3 linked regions of the Homo sapiens genome follow. The main gene of each other region encodes a partner of the protein of the gene in region 2 in a complex. Each region holds a gene or a part of one and is shown on either strand. Other genes may lie near its edges. A codon is read from its position in the direction of its gene.

What was found.
Region 1: the proteins of H3-5 (region 2) and KMT2C are in contact, whole or in part, in a crystal structure (PDB 7W6L), measured with the Homo sapiens proteins. Residues at the interface, in NP_001013721.2 of Homo sapiens: Ala2 (codon at 1,483), Arg3 (codon at 1,480), Thr4 (codon at 1,477), Lys5 (codon at 1,474), Gln6 (codon at 1,471), Thr7 (codon at 1,468), Ala8 (codon at 1,465); in NP_733751.2 of Homo sapiens: Tyr4800, Ala4810, Asn4811, Glu4814, Val4824, Tyr4825, Met4826, Phe4827, Arg4828, Val4834, Arg4845, Ala4857, Glu4858, Val4859, Ile4868, Tyr4884, Asp4885, Tyr4886, Lys4887, Phe4888, Asp4889, Glu4891, Ile4897.
Region 3: the proteins of H3-5 (region 2) and TAP2 are in contact, whole or in part, in a cryo-EM structure (PDB 8T4F), measured with the Homo sapiens proteins. Residues at the interface, in NP_001013721.2 of Homo sapiens: Arg52 (codon at 1,333), Arg53 (codon at 1,330), Thr58 (codon at 1,315), Glu59 (codon at 1,312), Leu60 (codon at 1,309); in NP_001276972.1 of Homo sapiens: Arg210 (codon at 7,769), Gly211 (codon at 7,772), Phe214 (codon at 7,781), Thr215, Met218, Pro265, Leu266, Asn269, Val270, Arg273, Arg373, Leu377, Arg381.

What each region holds. Positions count from the first base shown.
Region 1 is NC_000007.14:152,426,004-152,433,026, forward strand, and holds part of KMT2C (histone-lysine N-methyltransferase 2C), read right to left. Parts: intron 1-7,023. UniProt on the Homo sapiens protein: Histone methyltransferase that catalyzes methyl group transfer from S-adenosyl-L-methionine to the epsilon-amino group of 'Lys-4' of histone H3 (H3K4).
Region 2 is NC_000012.12:31,790,681-31,797,098, forward strand, and holds H3-5 (histone H3.3C), read right to left. Parts: upstream 1,619-6,418; 5' UTR 1,487-1,618; coding exon 1,079-1,486; 3' UTR 505-1,078; downstream 1-504. UniProt on the Homo sapiens protein: Core component of nucleosome. Nucleosomes wrap and compact DNA into chromatin, limiting DNA accessibility to the cellular machineries which require DNA as a template.
Region 3 is NC_000006.12:32,835,740-32,843,522, reverse strand, and holds the start of TAP2 (antigen peptide transporter 2), read left to right. Parts: upstream 1-4,783; 5' UTR 4,784-4,870; intron 4,871-5,285; 5' UTR 5,286-5,289; coding exon 5,290-5,782; intron 5,783-5,871; coding exon 5,872-5,986; intron 5,987-7,749; coding exon 7,750-7,783. Other genes in the region: PSMB8 (proteasome subunit beta type-8 isoform E2 precursor), read left to right, coding at 434-581, 740-851, 1,260-1,389, 1,788-1,992, 2,476-2,564. UniProt on the Homo sapiens protein: ABC transporter associated with antigen processing. In complex with TAP1 mediates unidirectional translocation of peptide antigens from cytosol to endoplasmic reticulum (ER) for loading onto MHC class I (MHCI) molecules.

The DNA.
Region 1 (7,023 bases), on a different chromosome or scaffold from region 2:
GCAATAAAAAACTTTGGAATAATATTACTACATATACAACTCCTAGGGAATTGCTTTGACTGTTTTTCGTGTATTGCTCATAATGAAAAACATTTCATAGAGATTTCTGCTGACCTAGCTTTTTAAAAATCTTTCTTCTATATATTGGGGACATCTGCGTACAAAGAAAATCTTTGCCACCCCACTATCCCCGCCTCCAATAACAACTGCATTATTTTATGTCATAGTTTTTTTTTTTTTTTTTTTTTTTGGGAGATAGGGTCTCGCTCTGTCACCCAGGCTGGAGTGCAGTGGCATGATCACAGCTCACTGTAGCCTCCAACTCCTGGGCTCAAGCAATCCTCCCATCTCAGCCTCCCAAGTAACTGGAGCTACAAGTGCATACCACCGCATCCAGCTATTTTTAATTTTTTGTAGAGATGGGGATCTCACTATGTTGCCCAGGCTGGTCTCTAACGCCTAGACTTAAGCAATCCTCCCACCTTTGCTTCCCAAAGCACTGGGATTACAGGTGTGAGCCAACATACCCAGCCTTATATCATGGCATTTTTGGAGTGAGTTTGGTTTCTAATCACTTCTGTCTCTAAATAGTTTATAACAGGCAACTGATTGATAATTGATGATTAGTGGCAATGACAGTAACAACAGTAGTTAAATCCTTACAACAGCACCTCTTAATAGGACTTAGTCTATGCCAGAAACTGTTCTAAATTCTACACATATATATAAATTCATAACAATCCTAAATTAGGTGTATTATTACGTCCTCTCTACAGGTGAGGCAACCATAGCACAAAAAATTTAAGTAACTTGCCCAAGGTCAAACAGCTAATATGTAGTACAACCTAGACTTGAATCCAGAAGGTCTAGGCTCTATAATCAGTGATGCCCCCAGAATTTGGTTTTCTCATTTGTCAAATGATTTACCATTTCTGAAGTATTAAGCTTTTTTCTTTTTTTAAATGCATAAATGTATACTGAAAGAATATACTCCCCAGAGTTTTTTTTTGTTTTGTTTTGTTTTGTTTTTGAGACAGAGTCTCACTCTGTCGCCCAGGCTGGAGTGCAATGGCACGATTTCAGCTCACTGCAAACTCTGCCACCCAGGTTCAAGCAATTCTCCTGCCTCAGCCTCCCGAGTAGCTGGGATTACAGGCGCCTGCCACCATGACTGGCTAATTTTTGTAGTTTTAGTAGAGACGGGGTTTCACCATCTTGGCCAGGCTGGTCTTGAACTCCTGACCTCGTGACTCACCCTCCTGGCCTCCCAAAGTGCTGGGATTACAGGCGTTAGCCACTGCGCCCGGCCCCCAGAGTATTAATATTTATTATGTATTCTTCCCAATCTTTTTATATGCACAAAATATACACACAGTTTGGGTTTATGTGCTTTTCACAAAATAAAGTTACTGCTAAACTTACTGCTTTACAACTTTTGGAAAGGTTTTTCTCTAGTTCAACAATGTATCATAGACATTCTCCCACTTCAGGGCCCACAGATCTATCTCTATGTCTTGATTTAAAACTGCATGGTAGTCCATTGATGCATATTTTGTTGTTGCCAACTTTTCTCTACTACTAATACTGCTGCCATGAGCATCTTGTATGTATATGTTGTCCATTTGTCATGAGAATATATTCTGATTTCCTTTCTTGTTTTTCCGGGTATAACTGGTCCCCTATCTCCTAAGGGCAACAAAGCATCCTAATCCTTTACTAATTCCCATACGCCATATTCTCAGTGATTACATGTTAAGTCACATCTTTAAATACTTATCCTAATCGATTCCTCAACTCCAGTCCTACTTCCCCGAATGCTTAGCAGGCATCCAATCTATTTGGATGCCTGCTACAACATCTATGCCAGAAACTGCCGAATTCCTCCTTTGCAGTGACTGGAATCTTCCTCCCCATTCGCACTACCAACATTCTATGCTTTGGCTTGATCTCTCACACTACAACTATTGTAACAGCCTATTATCTCTGCCTCCAGGTAACTCCTGTCTCCATATTATTACCACAGTGTTTTTTTAATAATAGGCATCATTAAATCACCAAGTATTTGAGTGCCTACATTCAAATGCATAAATGCTAAACAGAATACAAAGTAATTTAGTAAGGTTCCTATCCTCAAGAATACTGTAAATACCTGCTTTGAAAACTTTCATTTAAAAAATAAAATAACTGGGCATAAAGCAGAGATTGAGACCTGTAGTCCCCTGGTGGTCCGCAGATTAAACCTAGCCTACAAAGTATAGGCGCAAATACCGTTTTAGATTCTAATTAATGAAAAACACTTAAAATCCAAGTTTAAAAATCATAAAAAGGGCTGGGTGCGGTGGCTCATGCCTGTAATCCCATCATTTTGGGAGGCTGAGGCAGGTGGATCACCTGAGGTCAGGAGTTCGAGACCAGCCTGGCCAACATGGTGAAACCCCGTCTCTACTAAAAATACAAAAAAAAAAAAAAAAAAAAAAACTAGCCGGGCATGGTGGTGGGTGCCTGTAATCCTGGCTACTCAGGAGGCTAAGGAAGGAGAATCACTTGTACCCGGGAGGCAGAGGTTGCAGTGAGCCGAGATCACACCATTGCACTCTAGCCTGGGCAACAAGAGTAAAACTCCATCTCAAAAAAGAAAAAAAAAAATCATAAAAATCCAAATTTCCGCCCTCTTGAAAAATCTAGAAACAGCATCTCAAATAGCAACCATCAGCCAGAATTCTGTATCAGTTTCACCTTAAGCAGGGCATAAGGACTCCTAGACTTCCCCAAGGCTGTTATTATTTCCCATTTTCTCCCCAACCCAAGGTCTAAAGTGTCAGTTGTCATTCAGATTCTTAGAAGCAGCCTACTGTTCATTTAAATTGCTTACCTGCTCCCTGTAAACAGTTTATAACTCCTGGACTACAGGATAAAGCCCAAACTCATGAGTCTGGCATTCAAGAACTATCACAGCTTGGCCTCACCACTACACACAGCCTCTGTTCTAGTCACACAGTCAGAAGCCACCCCACCTTTTACACCTCCTTCCCTCAATAATTTCATTCACATTGCTCCCTCACACACTCATTTTCTTGTCATTCTACTTGGCTAAATCCCACCAATCCTTCAAGGTCTAATTCAAATACTACTTCCTCCAAATCTTTGAGCACCCCTCTAGGCCACAATAAATCTTCCAGGGTTGACTGTTCATCCCAGGACATATTTAGCACTTTGTAGCTCTTTAAATAACATGTACCAAATGAAAGATCTAAAAAGTTACATAGAAGTATAGAAAACTTAAGACTTGTTAAACAATTTTACACTTGTAGATCATATGTAGTTACTGCCATCACAAAATTAACAGCAGAAACAAAGTGAAACAATTTTCCTTTTACCTGAGGCTTTTTCTAGAATATTACAAAGTGCAAAAAGAGCTGTGTCATTTGTTTCTCTCAACTTGTGCTCTTAAGTCCTTCAAATTCTGCAAATAAAGGGATCAACACTTCCAATTATAAATCCAAGATTGGTCTATTACTTTTTTTTTTTTCTTTTTGAGACAGAGTCTCACTCTGTCGCCCAGGCTGGTGTGCAATAGCATGATCTCAGCTCACTGCAACCTCTGCCTCCTGGGTTCAAGCGATTCTCCTGCCTCAGCCTCCCGAGTCACTGGGACTATAGGTGCCTGCCACCACGCCCAGCTAATTTTTGTATTTTTGGTAGAGACGGGGTTTCACCATATTGGCCAGGCTGGTCTCCCACTCCTGACCTTGTGATCCGCCCACCTCAGCCTCCCAAAGTGCTGGGATTACAGGTGTGAGCCACCGTGCCCAGCCTTTCTATTACATTTTCACAGATAACCACCAGCATATATCTACAAGCAATAGCTATAATAAAAAAAGAAATAATCTCAGCCGGGCGTGGTGGCTCACGTCTGTAATCCCAGCACTTTGGGAGTGCCGAGGCAGGCAGATCACCTGAGGTCAGGAGTCTGAGACCAGCCTGGCCAACATGGTGAACACCCATCTCTACTAAAAACACAAAAATTAGCTGGGTGTGGTGGCATGCGCCTGTAATCCCAGCTTTTTGGGAGGCTGAGTCAGGCGAATCGCTTGAATCCGGAGGGCGGCAGCCACAGTGAGCCAGGATCACGCCACTGCACTCCAGCCTAGGCAAGAGAGTGAGACTGTCTCAAAAAAAAGAAAAAAAAAAAAAAACAGAAATCATCTCTATTCTACTTCGTAACTTTTGCCACTTATCCTGCCAACAAGTTCTCAAAATAACCACTGTAGCACAAACATGATAAAGAAAATTTTTAAAGAGAAAAGGAAGAGATTAATCAGCTTTCTGAAATTAAAAGATAAAAATGGACCAAAACAATATAGAAAAAAAAAAGTAAAGGCAAACACAAACTCACACGCTGACTGTAAAGTTTATTCCATGGCAGCTAAAAGTTGTTTGGCCCAAACATCTCACAGATTAAAAACTAAATCACAACCTAACGAGGGTATCTAACACGTCCCCACCAGGCAAGAGTGCAGAGAGACCATCTAATGTTCCTATTTATTTAGAGAGTCTTGCTCTGTCACCTGACTAGAGTGTAGTGGTGTGATGTCCGTTCACTGCAGCCTCAACCTCCAAGCCTCACACAATCTTCTCTCAGCTCAGTCTCCAGAGTAGTTGGGACTACAGGTGCCTACCACCACACCCAGCTAATTTTTTTGTAGAGACAAGGCCTCACTTTGTTGCCCAGGCTGGTCTCAAACTCCTTTTAAATGAGGATTAAGTGATCCTCCTGACTCAGTCTCCCAAAAGTGCTGGGATTACATATATCAGCCACCACACCCATCCTTAATGTCCTTTATAACTGGAAACTGACCAATTTTCACCTTGGAAGGTCAATGAAGTTTCACGAAGCCCCTCCATCATAAACTTAAAGTGACTTAAGTTTACAGAGTTGGACAACCACTATCTACCCAGAGAAACCTGACTGTGGTCTGGGAAACTTTGCAGTTTTGCGGAACAGAGGAATGAGATGAAGCAGTGTGGCTTGTCACTTGGCAGATTAACAACAATTCTGGCATTATGGAATTAACTGAAATAGTACGAAAATGTAATAAATCACAAGTGTCAGAATGGGAAAACAAATTGTTGTGATACTTTTATATTTCCATGGAAATCCATGTTTATCAAGTTTACATATTAGTAACCAATATGTAAATTGGTAAGTTTACATATTAGTAACTAATATGTAAATTTATATATTAGTAAACAATATATAAATTTGTATAATAGACTAAAAATAACATCTTCTCAAATATTAGAAATTCCCTGGGCCAGGTGCGGTGTTTCATGTCTGTAATCCCAGCACTTTGGGAGGCCCAGGCAGGCAGATCATGAGGTCAAGAGATTGAGACCATCCTGGCTAACAGGGTGAAACCCCGTCTCTACTAAAAATACAAAAATTAGTCAGGCATGGTAGTACGTGCCTGCAGTCCCAGCTACTCCAGCTACTTGGGAGGCTGAGACAGGAGAATCACTTGAACCTGGGAGGCGGAAGTTGCAGCGAGCCAAGATCGCACCACTGCACTCCAGCCTGGGCGGCAGAGCAAGACTCTGTCAAAAAAAAAAAAAAAGAAAAAAAACAGGTTCTTATTCATGGGAATTTCAGGTCAGGTTAAACAACAACCTCCTAACAGGTAAGAGAGGGTAGCAATCCTGAGTCAACTTTTCAACTGAATTAAAACATTTCAGTGCCTATTGAGTCCCAGAGACCAATAATATCAAAAATTTTATCAGATCTCTTGGACAATAAATTATTAAGAATTGCTGTCATAAAAATTACAAATTTGCATTATCTCAAAAAGCATGAATAATAGTGCTGTCTCTCAACTATAAACTTGTTTTATTAAATGGTATATATTGTAATGCAGTACAGTTTTCTATCACTTATTTCAAATTCACAGCTATGAAAAGGAGAAATTTTGTTGGGGGAAGGGCGTTACAAATACAGAGTAGCAACCTAGCCATTTTTGCTGGTCCTTGTAATGACAATCACTGGTTGTGCCTAATTTTTCTACAACAATAATGCTTAAGGTGGCTCTCTAATAATAGCAATTGCCCTCTGAAAAGAAAGTGGTTCAGGGTATAAAGAGTTTACTCAAAAAAGGCCAAGGATAGTGCTTCAGAAATCCTATACCTACCACCTGCTGCTTCTGTACAACCACCCCCATCCCCCACACCCACACCCATTTCTAACATCAACTTTCATGAACTGGTAAGAAACATAGTAGAGTAGAATGTTTCTTTGGCTTCCCAACTTGGTAATGTGAATTTACAGTGTAAGGATGGAAAAAATAAGAAAAAAGCTTCAGAAAAATTTTTTAACATTAACACAAAAATAATGAGATCTTTAATATGTGCATATTCTGACAGAGGCCTGCCAATGGTTAAGACCTGTGCCTCTGATAAAGATGATGAACTACTCCAAATTATCAAATAATTTGATACTTTTTACAGTTAAGGAAAACTTTCAAATGAATGTAAATTTCACTGTGCCACTTGACATTTGTACAATAGGAAACCTCTATGTATTTACTTTTCCAACTCTAAGATTAATAGCTTCAGTTCAAGTTTCTTGATTTTAGGTAGTAAAATTTTAAGATATTTATAGTTAATGTAAAAGCAGTAACTATATAGCTATGCTTTTTATTCATGACAAAATACACAAAAACAATCTAGCTAACACTATAAGACAAGAAAATGCTTTATTTACCTAATTATTAAAAATTTAAACTTGAGGAAAGTGTAATTGGTGGTGCATGTTTTTTTAAGCCAAAGATAAATACATAAATCCACTTCATTGTCAAAAGGCATCTTCTCAGCGGGGTGCGGTGGCTCACGCCTGTAATCCTGGCACTTTGGGAGGCTGAGGAGAGTGGATTACCTGAGGTCGGGGGTTCAAGACCAGCCTGGCCAACATGGTGAAACCCTGTGTCTACTAAAAATACAAAAAATTAGCTAGGTGCGATGGCGCACACCTGT
Region 2 (6,418 bases):
AATTTTAAAACCACTTGGAAGGCCATCTCTATAAAAATGATTTTCCCAGGACAGTAACCAGATGTAACCTAACCTAACACCATCTTAACCGGCAGAGGTTCAGTGGGCTAGAGCTTTGTGCTCCTCCCCTACACCAAGTTTTTATAATACAAATGCCACAAGAAAAAGAACTTCAGTACTGTTTCCTCTTAGCAGAGGAGAAAACTCAACCTAGTTATGAGACCAACCACACAACACAATGAAAAGCTGCACTAGTTCAGAATATTAGTTAACAGATGATGCTGGTGTGAATAACTCATATTTTTTTCTAGAGCCCTTATAAATAAAATCCCCCAGTTAGTGTTTCCATTATCAGCTAGAGGGTTAGTTAACATGTGGTAGAATGAGGATTTATGCAAGGTATAAATGCACATAGCATTTTACTACTATGAGAACAAGTGCAGTCAGAAGAAAACCAACTGGACTCTAAATTACACACACCTTAATGACAAGACTCCCCACCACTTGTGAATGTAAAACATTTAATTTGAAAATGTTGACACTACAATATATAAAATAGCTATTATAAATGCACATATTGTATTCTATAGCTGCCAGGTTTAATTTTTTTTTTTTAAAGGAAACTATAAGTTACACTGTGGTTAAGGTTTGTATCTTCACCCTTGAAAAAGCCTACATTCTATCACAGTGATGTATGGTCAGACTTAACAGCCCCAATTGTTAAACACTTGGATCAAGTCATAACCAGTTTTATTGCAAAAGGACCCTGTTGTACACATTTATCAATTCTAGTACCTTAATAGCTACCCAACAAGTCATTAACATACAGAAACATGCATCATGAGAAGCAAGAAATATCACGCATCCGTTTTGCATATTAACAACTTGTCACTCCTGAGCAACAGTGCTGACATCACTGAGGTCTGTAAACAGTCACTTTTCGCATTCATCCTGAGTGAAAGATGGAATGACTTAAGTACAAATGCAACATATAAACAATTTCTTACAAAAAAAGTCACCAATTAAACCAAAGTATTTTACAGAATTTACTACAAAATGCCATAAAAACTGCCTTCACTTAAGCTCTCTCTCCCCGTATCCGGCGAGCCAACTGGATGTCTTTGGGCATGATGGTGACTCTCTTAGCGTGGATGGCACACAGGTTAGTATCTTCCAACAGACCCACCAGGTACGCTTCGCTAGCCTCCTGCAGCGCACCGACGGCTGCGCTCTGAAACCTCAGGTCAGTGTTGAAATCCTGCGCGATCTCCCTCACCAACCTCTGGAAGGGCAGCTTCCGGATGAGCAGCTCGGTCGACTTCTGATAACGACGAATCTCTCGAAGCGCCACGGTCCCAGGCCTGTAGCGATGAGGCTTCACCCCGCAGGTAGAGGGGGTGCTTTTCCTGGCAGCTTTCGTGGCCAGCTGTTTGCGGGGGGCTTTCCCACCGGTGGATTTACGAGCAGTCTGCTTGGTTCGGGCCATTTTCTTTCACCCAACGCCGAAGTTTTAGGCCACTTCTCCGACCTCCGCGCTGCTTCCGCTGCCCGAGGAAGAGCCGCAGTCGCGAGCGAAGAACCGACACTGGTCCAACGAACGACCAAACCGCTCTGCGCCCTCCTCTCTTTTATCTGCATCCCTTCCATTCTTCAAAGCCCATTTCGGTGTTTCGTTTTTTGTTGTTGTTTTGTTTTTTGAGACGGAGTCTCGCTTTGTTGCCCAGGCTGGAGTGCAGTGGCGTGATTTCGGTTCACTACAACCTCCACCTCCCAGGTTCGAGCGATTCTCCTGCCTCAGCCTCCAGAGTAGCTGGGATTACAGGCGCCTGCCACCACACCTGGTTAATTTTTGTATTTTTAGTAGAGACGGAGTTTCACCATGTTGGCCAGGCTGGTCTCAAACTCCTGACCTCAGGTGATCCGCCCGCCGCAGCCTCCCAAATTACTGGGATTACAGGTGTGAGCCACTGCACCCGGCCTTTCAAAGCTCATTTCAATCCCACCTCCGTCACAAAGCATTCTTCAGCCACCTTCGTTTTCATCCTTTTTTTCTCTGCACTCTTTCTACCCTTATCATTTACTTGACACTATGCAAATTCTACATGTATATGTATTTCTCATTTATTTTTAGTAATTATCTTTTTTCTTATTATAAAAGTAATACTTGTCCAATTTAAAATACAAAAAATATAGAGAAACAAACTGAAATGTGGAATCACATGTGATAAACACACACACAAGTTGGCTGAATATCTGTTACTCTTGGAATGGGGAAAGAATCATCTAGTCATCTGCCAAGAGGTATAAACCTAAAGTTTAGAAACAGAAATCTGACTTTTAAATGTTACAGTTCTATATGATATTTGTTCCATGGAGTAAATCATAAAGTTTCTCTCTCTCTCTCTCTTTTTTTTTTTTTTTTTTGTTTTTTGGGAGATGGAGTTTCACTGTCCTCACCCAGGCTGGAGTGCAATGGCACGATCTCGTCTCGCTGAAACCTCCACCTCCCAGGTTCAAGCAATTCTCCTGTCTCAGCCTCCCAAGTAGCTGGGATTACAGGTGCCTGCCACCACACCTGGCTAATTTTTGTATTTTTAGTAGAGACGGGGGTTTTACCATTTTCGCCAGGCTGGTCTCGAACTCCTGACGTGAAGTGATCCACCCACTTCAGCCTCCCAAAGTGCTGGGATTACAGGAGTGAGCCACCGTGCCTGGCCACAAAGTATCTCTTTTGTCAGGTGAGTTTTTTAACTTCTAGAAATATGCCACAAAGTGAGCCAGGTGTGGTGGCTCCGCCTGTAATGGTAGCACTGGGAGGCCGAGGCAGGTGGATCACGAGGTCAGGAGTTTGAGACGAGCCTGGCCAACATGGCAAAACCTGTCTCTACTAAAAATACAAAAATTAGCCAAGCGTGGTGGCATACGCCTGTAGTCCCAGCTACTCGGGAGGCTGAGGCAGGAGACTTGCTTGAACCTAGGAGGCAAATGTTGCAATGAGCCCAGATTGCACTACTGCACTCCAGCCAGGGTAACAGAGTGAGACTTTGCCTCCAAAAATAAAAAAATAAAATAACGAAAAGCTATTGGATTGACCATTGATACTTTCCACATCTGAAGAAATCTACCTTATTTTCAAAAGGGCAAAAAAAGGAAGGGTTCCCCGCCCCAGGTTAAAATATAGTAAAATCTCTGAGTAATTCATAACAAATAAAGCACCTTCACACTACCATAAATCTCTACACTGTGTTCCAATCTGTTGAGTGCCTGAATCCAATGACAGCTTTGGACGTCCCCTTCCCCCATAATCTCTGTGCAGACCCTCAACCTCACCCCAGATGCCTTTGGAGTTTTCATTCTTTATTATAAGCAATTGATAGTTTCTCAGACTTTTATATACAGCGTAAAGAAAATCCGTACCCAGCCGGGCGGTGGCTCACGCCTGTAATCCCAGCACTTTGGGAGGCCGAGGCGGGCGGATCACGAGGTCAGGAGATGGAGACCATCCTGGCTAACACGGTGAAACGCCGTCTCTACTAAAAATACAAAAAAAAATAGGTGGGCATGGTAGCAGGCGCCTGTGGTCCCAGCTACTCGGGAGGCTGAGGCAGGAGAATGACGTGAACCCGGGAGGCGGAGCTTGCAGTGAGCGGAGATCGCGCCACTGCACTTCAGCCTGGGCGACTGAGCGAGACTCCTCCAAAAACAAAAACAAAAACAAACAAAAAAAAGAAAATCCGTACCCTTACTACTACACTAGGGGCACAAGGCGGGGAAGAGACTCAAACAATAAGAGCTACTACTGTTTGCTGAACACTTATGTACTGAGTACATTCCATCCTCAGAATCAACCTTAAACTGTTAACATCCTCATTTTACAGATGAGGAAAATGAGGCTCAGAAGAGTTAACTAACCTAAGAGACCCTGAAGTCCTAGCATTTTCCACATGGAACATTTTCCCCTGCAGGTCCCCTTTGCCTGTAGTTGTTCCTTCCACCTCTTCCTGTGCAGGATCTTAGCCCCTAACTGTTCCTCCTGTCCAGGCTGATCAATCCAAAGTGCCCAAACAGTGGCTGCTCATCTGCAACAACAATTCCTCCCTCTTTCAAGAATCTCTTTGACCAACTCTTCCCCAAACTAGCCGCATTCTGGCTGACAGTCCCCTCTCCCACTCCAGCTGAAGTTCGATAAAATTCTTGCCGTTTCTTCCCCCAAGACAGGCCGTTTTTTAGCTCCTTCTCAGGCCTGACATTTTGAATAATGTCTATGCTAATGGAGATTCAGACCCTGATCTCTTCACTGCCGTACTATACTGGTAGTTTTCAAATTTAAAAGTCACTGGTTGAATTGTTTGTTTGCAACTTGAAATGTCCTCTCTCATAGAAGTGATACCATGGTCTGAAGCCAGCCTTTTCAGCTGTTATAATCATCCTGAAGCTGCCTAAGTGGAGGAAATAAGGCAGTAATGAAATAAAAGATTGGATTTAAGTGAATGAAAGAAACAGGTTTTGGTAGAGTGACCATATAATTTACTATCCAACCAGGATACTCCGGGGAGTGAAAAGGTGCTATTAATAATTACACCAGGACAATAGGCAGGCATAAACTGAGGCTGTCCTGGACACATCAGGACATATGTTCACTCTAGGTGTCGGTCACATCAGAATGGCTTTGAGCAATTCACCCTAACCTCCTTGAGCCTCAATTTCTTCTTCTTCTTCTTCTTTTCTTTTTTTTTTTTTTGAGACAGGGTCTCATTCTGTCACTCAGGCTAAAGTGCAATGGTGTGATCTCGGCTCACTGCAGCAGCCCCAAACTCCTGGGCTCAAGCAATCCTCCTGCCTCAGTGTCCCTTGTACCTGGGACTAGAATCGCCCCACCAAGCCCAACTAATTAAAAACAATTTTTTTTTTTTGAGATGGAGTCTCGCTCTGTTGCCCAGGCTGGAGTGTGGTGGTGCAATCTTGGCTCACTGCAAGCTCCGCGTCCCGGGTTCATGCCATTCTCCTACCTCAGCCTCCTGCGTAGCTGGGACTACAGGTGCCCGCCACCATGCCCGGCTAGTTTTCTGTATTTTTAGTAGAGACGGGGTTTCACCATGTTAGCCAGGATGGTCTCGATCTCCTGACCTCGTGATCCACCCGCCTCGGCCTCCCAAAGTGCTGGGATTACAGGTGTGAGCCACCGCGCCCGGCCAAAAACATTTTTTTTTTTTGTAGAACTGGAATCTCACCATGTTGCCCATGCTGGTTTCAAACTCCGATCCTCAAATGATCCCATTGCCTCAGCCTCCCAAAGTGCTGGGATTATAAGTGTGGGCCACCGTCTCCAGCCTGAGCCTCAATTTCTTTATTGTGAAATGGGAGGATTGACATTATGGGGTGATTGTGAGAATGACATAAGTCAGAGTCTATTGTGCAAAATTGAATTTGTAAAGTACCATATAAATATACTTTTTCAGATAATAGTTATGACTAATACTGTTACAGGAAAGGTGTCCCAATCCAGACCCCAAGAGAAGGTTCTGGATCCTGCACAAGAAAGAATTTGGGGCGAGTTCATAAAGTAAAGTGAAAGCAAGTTTATTAGAGAAGTAAAAGAATAAAAGAATGGCTACTCCATAGGCAGAGCAGTGGCACGGGATGTTCAACTGAGTACACGTATAGTTATTTCTTGATTATATGTTAAACAAGGGGTGGATCATTCATGAGTTTTCCAGGAAAAGGGCAGGGATTTACCCTAACTGAGGGTTCCTCCCCTTTTAGACCATATAGGGTAACTTCCTAATGTTGCCATGGCGTTTGTAAACTGTCGTGGTGCTGCTGGGAGTGTCTTTGAGTATGCTAATGCATTATAATTAGCGTATAGTGAGCAGTGAGGACAACTAGAGGTCACTTTCATCACCACCTTGGTTTTGGCAGGTTTTGGCTGCCTTCTTTATGGCATTGTTTTATCAGCAGGGTCTTTATGACCTCTATCTTGTCCTGCTGACCTATCTTGTCCTGTGACTAAGAATGCTTAACCTCCTGGGAATGCAGCCCAGTAGGTGTTAGCCTCATTTTACCCAGACCTTATTCAAGATGGAGTCCCTCTGGTTCCAATGCGTCTGACAATACTGCTGCCCTGAGGTGCCTGGTGCTGATTAGACCGCGATCAAGTGCATATTCGCTGTTGATTGATGTTACTCTCCTCTGTGCCACTCTCCCTATGTGGGCAGTCTCTTCTAACTGCGGGAACAGCAAACCAACCAGTGAGAAAGGCCATCGTCATTTCATTCTTTTGTGTGCCAAAGCACACAAACCACTTAGAGAATATTAGAGAATATGTTCTATTTCCTTCCAGAAAAAAAAAACCCACTTTTTTTTTTTTTTTGAGACAGAGTCTGGGTGGAGTGCAGTGGCGCGATCTTGGCTCACTGCA
Region 3 (7,783 bases), on a different chromosome or scaffold from region 2:
CCTATGAAATTTGCCTGCTGGCCTCCTCTCAGCAACTCACTGTTGCGCGACTTAGAACAAGTCACTTAGTCTAGGTCCCAAGCCCCTCTTCTGTAAAGTGAGGATACTGTTACTAAACGTGTTTTGTGAGGGTTGAATGCTTTATGCATGGAAGAAACCCTTTAAGTCACTCTCAAAATTTTTTAGTAATGGTAACATGTGCTTGCTTTCATTTCTGTTGTGCTGGAAAATGGAAAAGGTTGATACTGGCATGCCTCTTCTTTTCCTTCTCCCAAGCCATTTCCTTCTAGAGATTGGTTATTAACTGTTTCATTTATTGATGGTTAGATCATTTCTGCATATCTCCTCACCCTCATACTCCCTAAAACCTTTTCCTGGAGCCTCTTACTACAGAATTTTTCATTGCCTTTCTCAACCTCTTTTCTCTTATCAGCCCACAGAATTCTTCCAGTCCCTGGGTGGGGACGGAGAAAGGAACGTTCAGATTGAGATGGCCCATGGCACCACCACGCTCGCCTTCAAGTTCCAGCATGGAGTGATTGCAGCAGTGGATTCTCGGGCCTCAGCTGGGTCCTACATTAGTGAGTGTATACGCTCCAGCAGGCAGAATCTGGGGAGCTGGGCTCTCCTTTCCACAGGAGGCCAACTCTGCAACAAAGTGGAAGTGGATATTGATTTAGGACACACTGGGGGATCTATGGGGTCATCCCTTCTCTCCCAAAGCTCCATCTTCTTCCAGGTGCCTTACGGGTGAACAAGGTGATTGAGATTAACCCTTACCTGCTTGGCACCATGTCTGGCTGTGCAGCAGACTGTCAGTACTGGGAGCGCCTGCTGGCCAAGGAATGCAGGTAAGCGAGGCCTCTCATCTTCCTTTCTTAGCCTAGTGGTTAATCCCTGGATCTCTCAGATCATTGCTCCTTACTCTTGTCCTATGTGGTCCATCTTAGTGCTAATAGTATATTTCACAAAACAGCTTTTTGGTGATAAGACCCTTCTCCCAAATCTCAGCCTGTGCTCCACTCATAAGCCAGATAGTACGTCAGGTATTTAGCACTGACACATCCACCCTGGCGGGACAGTATCATTTACTAGGCTGCCTTTGTATGTTTCAGATACTTTAAATTCCAAATCTTTCTCTGATCTTTAGATCCTACAAAATAATTCCTTTCCAATGCTTATCTCTTTAATCATTTCCTGCCCCATCAAGTTGGAAAGAGCTAACCTCTCTTTCCTCACTCCACCTTGTCCTCACCCAGGCTGTACTATCTGCGAAATGGAGAACGTATTTCAGTGTCGGCAGCCTCCAAGCTGCTGTCCAACATGATGTGCCAGTACCGGGGCATGGGCCTCTCTATGGGCAGTATGATCTGTGGCTGGGATAAGAAGGTGGGTGCTCTCCATTCTTCATGTTCCCCCACCATGTTCCCTATGGATGACAGATCTGTTTCCCATCATATACTCCTACTCCCTCCCTGACAAGATGCATGGCATATAGAGTGCTTGGTTATAGAACTGTTTCAGTATATCCATGGACTATTTATTGGCCCAGATATGAATCATTGCATGTGTTTTGTAAGCTTGTCCCTTTTGTTAAACAGTTGATTTCAAGTTTGTTTTTCCTTTTTCATTTCTAAAGTTCGATGACTTTACCAAAGTGGTTTCCTAATTCCAATGTTCTTGTGGTAATATTAATTCTTTTGTTCACTTTTTATGTCTCATATTTGAACCCCCATGTTACCAACATCTTCCTCTCCAATTTCAGCCTGAAATCTTTCATCTTATAGGGTCCTGGACTCTACTACGTGGATGAACATGGGACTCGGCTCTCAGGAAATATGTTCTCCACGGGTAGTGGGAACACTTATGCCTACGGGGTCATGGACAGTGGCTATCGGCCTAATCTTAGCCCTGAAGAGGCCTATGACCTTGGCCGCAGGGCTATTGCTTATGCCACTCACAGAGACAGCTATTCTGGAGGCGTTGTCAATAGTAAGAGACCAATGCTCCCACCACCATGCCTGGGAGGAGTCGGCGGGTGGTGGGGGGGGTGATTTAAGATTGAGAAACCAGCCTGGCCAACATGGCGAAACCCCGTCTCTACTAAAACTACAAAAATTAGCCGGACGTGGTGACGGGTGCCTGTAGTCCCAGCTACTTGGGAGGCTGAGGCAGGAGAATCACTTGAACCTGGGAGGTGGAGCTTGCAGTGAGCCAAGATGGCGCCACTGCATTCCAGTCTGGGCCACAGAGTGAGACTCCTTCTCAAAAGAAAAAAAAGAAAATGATTGAGAGACTCAAAGGAGGGAGAGTAGTAGGGAGGAAATTTTCAGAGTCAGAAGAAGGGCATTAAAGGCCCAGTCATATGGTTTTAAGCTTGCGCATGTGTCTTGTTGCTGCCTTCAACATAACATCAGTGACAGGAACTTGCTGAGGTGAAAGGTGACTCCATGTTCTTTTCTCATTTGTCCACAGTGTACCACATGAAGGAAGATGGTTGGGTGAAAGTAGAAAGTACAGATGTCAGTGACCTGCTGCACCAGTACCGGGAAGCCAATCAATAATGGTGGTGGTGGCAGCTGGGCAGGTCTCCTCTGGGAGGTCTTGGCCGACTCAGGGACCTAAGCCACGTTAAGTCCAAGGAGAAGAAGAGGCCTAGCCTGAGCCAAAGAGAGAGTACGGGCTCAGCAGCCAGAGGAGGCCGGTGAAGTGCATCTTCTGCGTGTTCTCTATTTGAACAAGCATTTCCCCCAGGGAAGTTTCTGGGTGCCCCACTAAGTAGAATAAAGAAAAACGGTTATAAATACCTCTGTCTTGTGGCTGAATGGGGTTGGGCCTGTGGTTGTTGGGTGGGGCAGAAAGTAAAGAGACGCTTTTTCTGGAGAAGGGGCTCAGACCCCTATCTAAGAAATGTGGCCTCACCACATAGTTCTTCCTGGGGTTTCCTTCCACACTCATCTCTCCAAGACCTCAGGAAGGCTGCTCATTGCTGTCCATGGACACTTGTTTGCAATTTCACATAGGTTAGGGTCCTTTCCATAGAGAGGCACCTGGGGACTCCTGTGTGTTCCATTGTTAATGGTTTGAGGAACAGGGAGTAGGGCACCTAGGATAACTGTTTTTGACTTTATAGAGTAGGATGAAAAAGCTTCCACTTCACTTTAATATGGTAATCATATAAACACCATACCATTTATCCCAAATAACACTTTGGAGATATTGGATATTGAATATAAAGACAGACATTAAGGGTCTAATTTCATGATGTGTCATGCTGAATTGCAAGATGGCAGGACTATAATTTTAGAGGAAGAAGAGATCAGGAGGACTCCCCTAAGTGAGGAGTGTGGGGAAAATGTAAAAGATCCAGGTTAGAAGAAAGAGACACACATCATGAGATTTTCGGAATCATGCTGGAACTATGGACCATGTCACTTTCCAGAAAATAAAGGAAACAAATGCTTGAAAGTAGGAGCATGAGCTTGAGCATGGAGCTTTTTTCATTAGAGAGAGATTCTTAAAATGCCAGAATGAATAGAGTTGTAAAACTTTAGCGAGCCCCTACTTAAAATCCCTCCTCCCCACCACCACTATTTTAAACTTTAAGTGACTCCTTGGTAGTCACACAGGTAACATTTCAAAATGGTGATCTGGAATCCAAGCGACCCTTCCTTTGGGGAATTTGTTTGTTTGTTTGTTTTTAGTTTGGGAGGTGGTTTCAATCTGAAGAGTCCTTTCTGGAATAAACGAATCTTTCTGTTGCATAGGAAGGCTCTGGGTCAGGAAGGATATTTAAAAACCTAATTACTGTTCTAAACAGTGTTAAAATAGAACAAGAACCAAAGCTCAGTACGGGGCATTTCCCTCATAGGCTGAAGGTGCGCCCAACATAATTTGGAGTACAGACTCAGAGGCACCTGAACACGCGCCAGCTCAAGGTGCTCCGGCTGAGAAGGACGGATGAAGATGAACGCTCAGGGCCTACTAAATTCAAAGTCTGTACGTGAAAATCCCCTTTGGCCTGGTGAGATTGGTTGGAACCTTCTATTTAGGAGAGCCCGGCTCGCTCGCCTAAAACTGGAGCTTGCATGGAAGAGGGCACTTTTTTTTTTTTTAGACGAAGTCTCACTCTTGTCGCCCAGGCTGGAGTGCAATGACCCGATCTCGGCTCACTGAAACCTCTGCCTCCTGAGTTCAAGCGATTCCCCTGCCTCAGCCTCCCGAGTAGCTGGGATTACAGGCGTCCGCCACCACGCCCTGGCTAATTTTTGTATTTTTAGTAGAGACAGGGTTTCACCATGTTGGCCAGGCTGGTCTCGAACCCCTGACCTCAGGCGATCCGCCCGCCTCGGCCTCCCAAAGTGCTGTGATTACAGGCGTGAGCCACCGCGCCGGACCAGAAAGAAGGCACTTCTTAATAGTAGGCTCAGAGCTTGAAGTAGTAACTTTGAGAAAATTCAGTGATTCTCCAATTACAAAGCATTCTCCAATTACAAAGCAAGGACAACAGATAAAGTTGCCCTTGAGACAACTGTATTTTACTTAATGATAAAGAAACATTTTTGCAGTTTTATATCCCAGAGTAACCGCCACTAAAGGCGAGTGAGACTCATTGCAGGCCTGTACAGTGCGAACCAGAGTTCGGGCTCCAGTTCCGCTGTCTGCGGGTCTCGCGCGCCCCCTCCCGGCGGCCCAGCCCAGAATGAAGGCCTTGGCTGGGGAAGCGAAAGCGAAAGCTGCCCGAGCCCTGACGCCCGCCCTGGCCGAGCGTAGCTGGCGGACCAGAGCCGGTAGCGAGGTTGGGAGAGACGGAGCGGACCTCAGCGCTGAAGCAGAAGTCCCCGGAGCTGCGGTCTCCCCGCCGCGGCTGGTGAGTTGGTGCGGAGGGGAACCTGGAGCGCCAACAGGGACGCAGCCCAAGTGACTACCCACTCCACGCTCCTGCTTCCCAGTCCCTCTGCACCCGGCGATAGGAGGGAGCGGAGCCCGGACCACTTAGCTCGCCGCGGCAGGCGGGGGTGGGGGTGGGGGTCCGGGGATTTTTTTTTTTTTTTTTTAAGCACGAGGCTCCTGATGGTCATGCTTCCAGCTCCCCAGAAGGCCGAAAGCTGTCTGTCGTAGGAGGGGTGTACGGATGAGCACCGGTTACTCAGGAGAGCTCTCAGGGTTGAATAGGATAAAATGAGAAGCCGATGGACGGGTTAGGCGGAGCCGGGCGGGTAGGAGGGCAGGGACAAGGATTGGGACTCCACCCCCATGATTTCTCATCTCGTATCCGTTGACAGAGCCATGCGGCTCCCTGACCTGAGACCCTGGACCTCCCTGCTGCTGGTGGACGCGGCTTTACTGTGGCTGCTTCAGGGCCCTCTGGGGACTTTGCTTCCTCAAGGGCTGCCAGGACTATGGCTGGAGGGGACCCTGCGGCTGGGAGGGCTGTGGGGGCTGCTAAAGCTAAGAGGGCTGCTGGGATTTGTGGGGACACTGCTGCTCCCGCTCTGTCTGGCCACCCCCCTGACTGTCTCCCTGAGAGCCCTGGTCGCGGGGGCCTCACGTGCTCCCCCAGCCAGAGTCGCTTCAGCCCCTTGGAGCTGGCTGCTGGTGGGGTACGGGGCTGCGGGGCTCAGCTGGTCACTGTGGGCTGTTCTGAGCCCTCCTGGAGCCCAGGAGAAGGAGCAGGACCAGGTGAACAACAAAGTCTTGATGTGGAGGCTGCTGAAGCTCTCCAGGCCGGACCTGCCTCTCCTCGTTGCCGCCTTCTTCTTCCTTGTCCTTGCTGTTTTGGGTGAGTCAGGAGAGGACGTTGTGAGTTGGAGGTGGTAAAAGGGCCTGGGCACCAGCACATTCTTGTGTTATTTTTCATGCCTCTTTCAGGTGAGACATTAATCCCTCACTATTCTGGTCGTGTGATTGACATCCTGGGAGGTGATTTTGACCCCCATGCCTTTGCCAGTGCCATCTTCTTCATGTGCCTCTTCTCCTTTGGCAGGTAGGTGGTGGGCAGCTGGGTCCATTTGCTAGCCCCAAATCTTTATAGGGGTCTTCACTTCCCTAACTCCATTTCTAGGCCCTTTCAGGCGCAAAACACAAAAATACTTAAACTAAAATATGGTGAATGTAGTCACCATTCTGTTTCATCTATCCATTCATTTCTTCCTTCGTTCATATTCATCCAATATCTTCAAAGTTTATCTGATCTTATTATAGGAACAAGTTATGAGTGAAGGTAGTACAAAAGGAATTTAAGTCTCAGATGGAATGTCTCTCAGTTGTCTCTCAACATTCCTAGGTCCATGAAATTCCATTTCTTTCTGCCTCCTACCTCCTACCCCTAAGTCTGTCTCCAAAGTATCTCTCCAGGGTCACTCCCTCAGGATGGGTATGCTTCTCCCTTTCACTCTTCTTTCCCAGCTCATCTTGCCAGTCCCTGAAGATCTTACTCTGAGGCTTATCACCTTTCTTTCCAGAATCATTACTCTTTTCCCTTCACTTGCTTTCCTTTCTCTTTCTAGACATACTCAAACAAACAAACTGTTTGATAAGGCTGGGACTGGGATGAGGTGAGCGAGGCACCTGGGGTGCAAAGTTTAAGGAGGTGTGCACTCACCTTACCCAAATCCCAGCCGGCCTGATTGTCTCTATTTTTATGGTCATACTTAATTTAGAGTACCCTCGAAAACCATTTCATTGTGCCTTCATTCCATCCTGGCTGCTTTCTGCTGAAACTACAGTCGTGCACTGCATAACGAAGTTTAGGTCAATGATGGGCCACATATAAGATGGTGGACCCACAAGATTATAATACCATATTTTTACTGTACCTTTTCTATGTTTAGATACACAAATACTTACTTCTGTGTTACAGTCGCCCACAGTGTTAGGTGCAGTTATATGTTGTACAGATTTGTAGCCTAGGAGCAATAGGCTAAACTACATGGCCTAGGTGTGCAGTAGGCTATGACATCTAGGTTTGTGTAAGTACACTCTATGATGTTCATACAACGATGAAACCATCTAACGACACATTTCTCAGAACACATCCCTGTCATTAAAGTACAAACCCTCATTATATCATGTCTGACTCTCCCAAACGCCTCTTCAATATGGTAACTAAATTTGTATTAGAAACATATATTTTGTAAAATACATGCTTTTATGCTTTATATTTTTTCCTCTAAGTGTTACTGTAGCATGTAGTTGGTCTAAGAGGGATTTTCCAACTCGAAGGATGAAAGATGGGAATCACATGACTCTGGGGCTCCAGAGAATTGTGGGGGCAGGGAATTTATTATTGCAGTTCCCATGATGAAGTATCTATGATGACAGAGAAGGGCTTTGGGTATGGGGCAGGAAGGAGACCAAGGCGGAGGAGACGCACAGAGGGACAAGCCTGAGGGACGCTGGGACAGAAGCAAGCACTGGGATACTTGTTTTCACAATATCTTTTCCCTTCTATTGTAGTTTTCTATTGTGTCTAGTACAGAGTGCACTCCATAAATACTTGTAAATTTGTACATGTTATGATTTTGTTCTCACATCTAGCTCACCATGTCTCCTCTTTCTTCTTCCTCTGTGTATTCCTTACCTCTTCTCTCTCTGTGTGTCTGTCTCTCATTTCTTTCTCTTTTGCCCCTCCTGGCATGCTTTCCCCTGACTTTGCGCTTCTCTGCACTCCTGGCTTGCTCCTCTGTTTCACCCGCTGGCTTGCTCCTTCTCTGCATCTCCCTCCCCTCTTATTCTCCTACCCCACAGCTCACTGTCTGCAGGCTGCCGAGGAGGCTGCTTC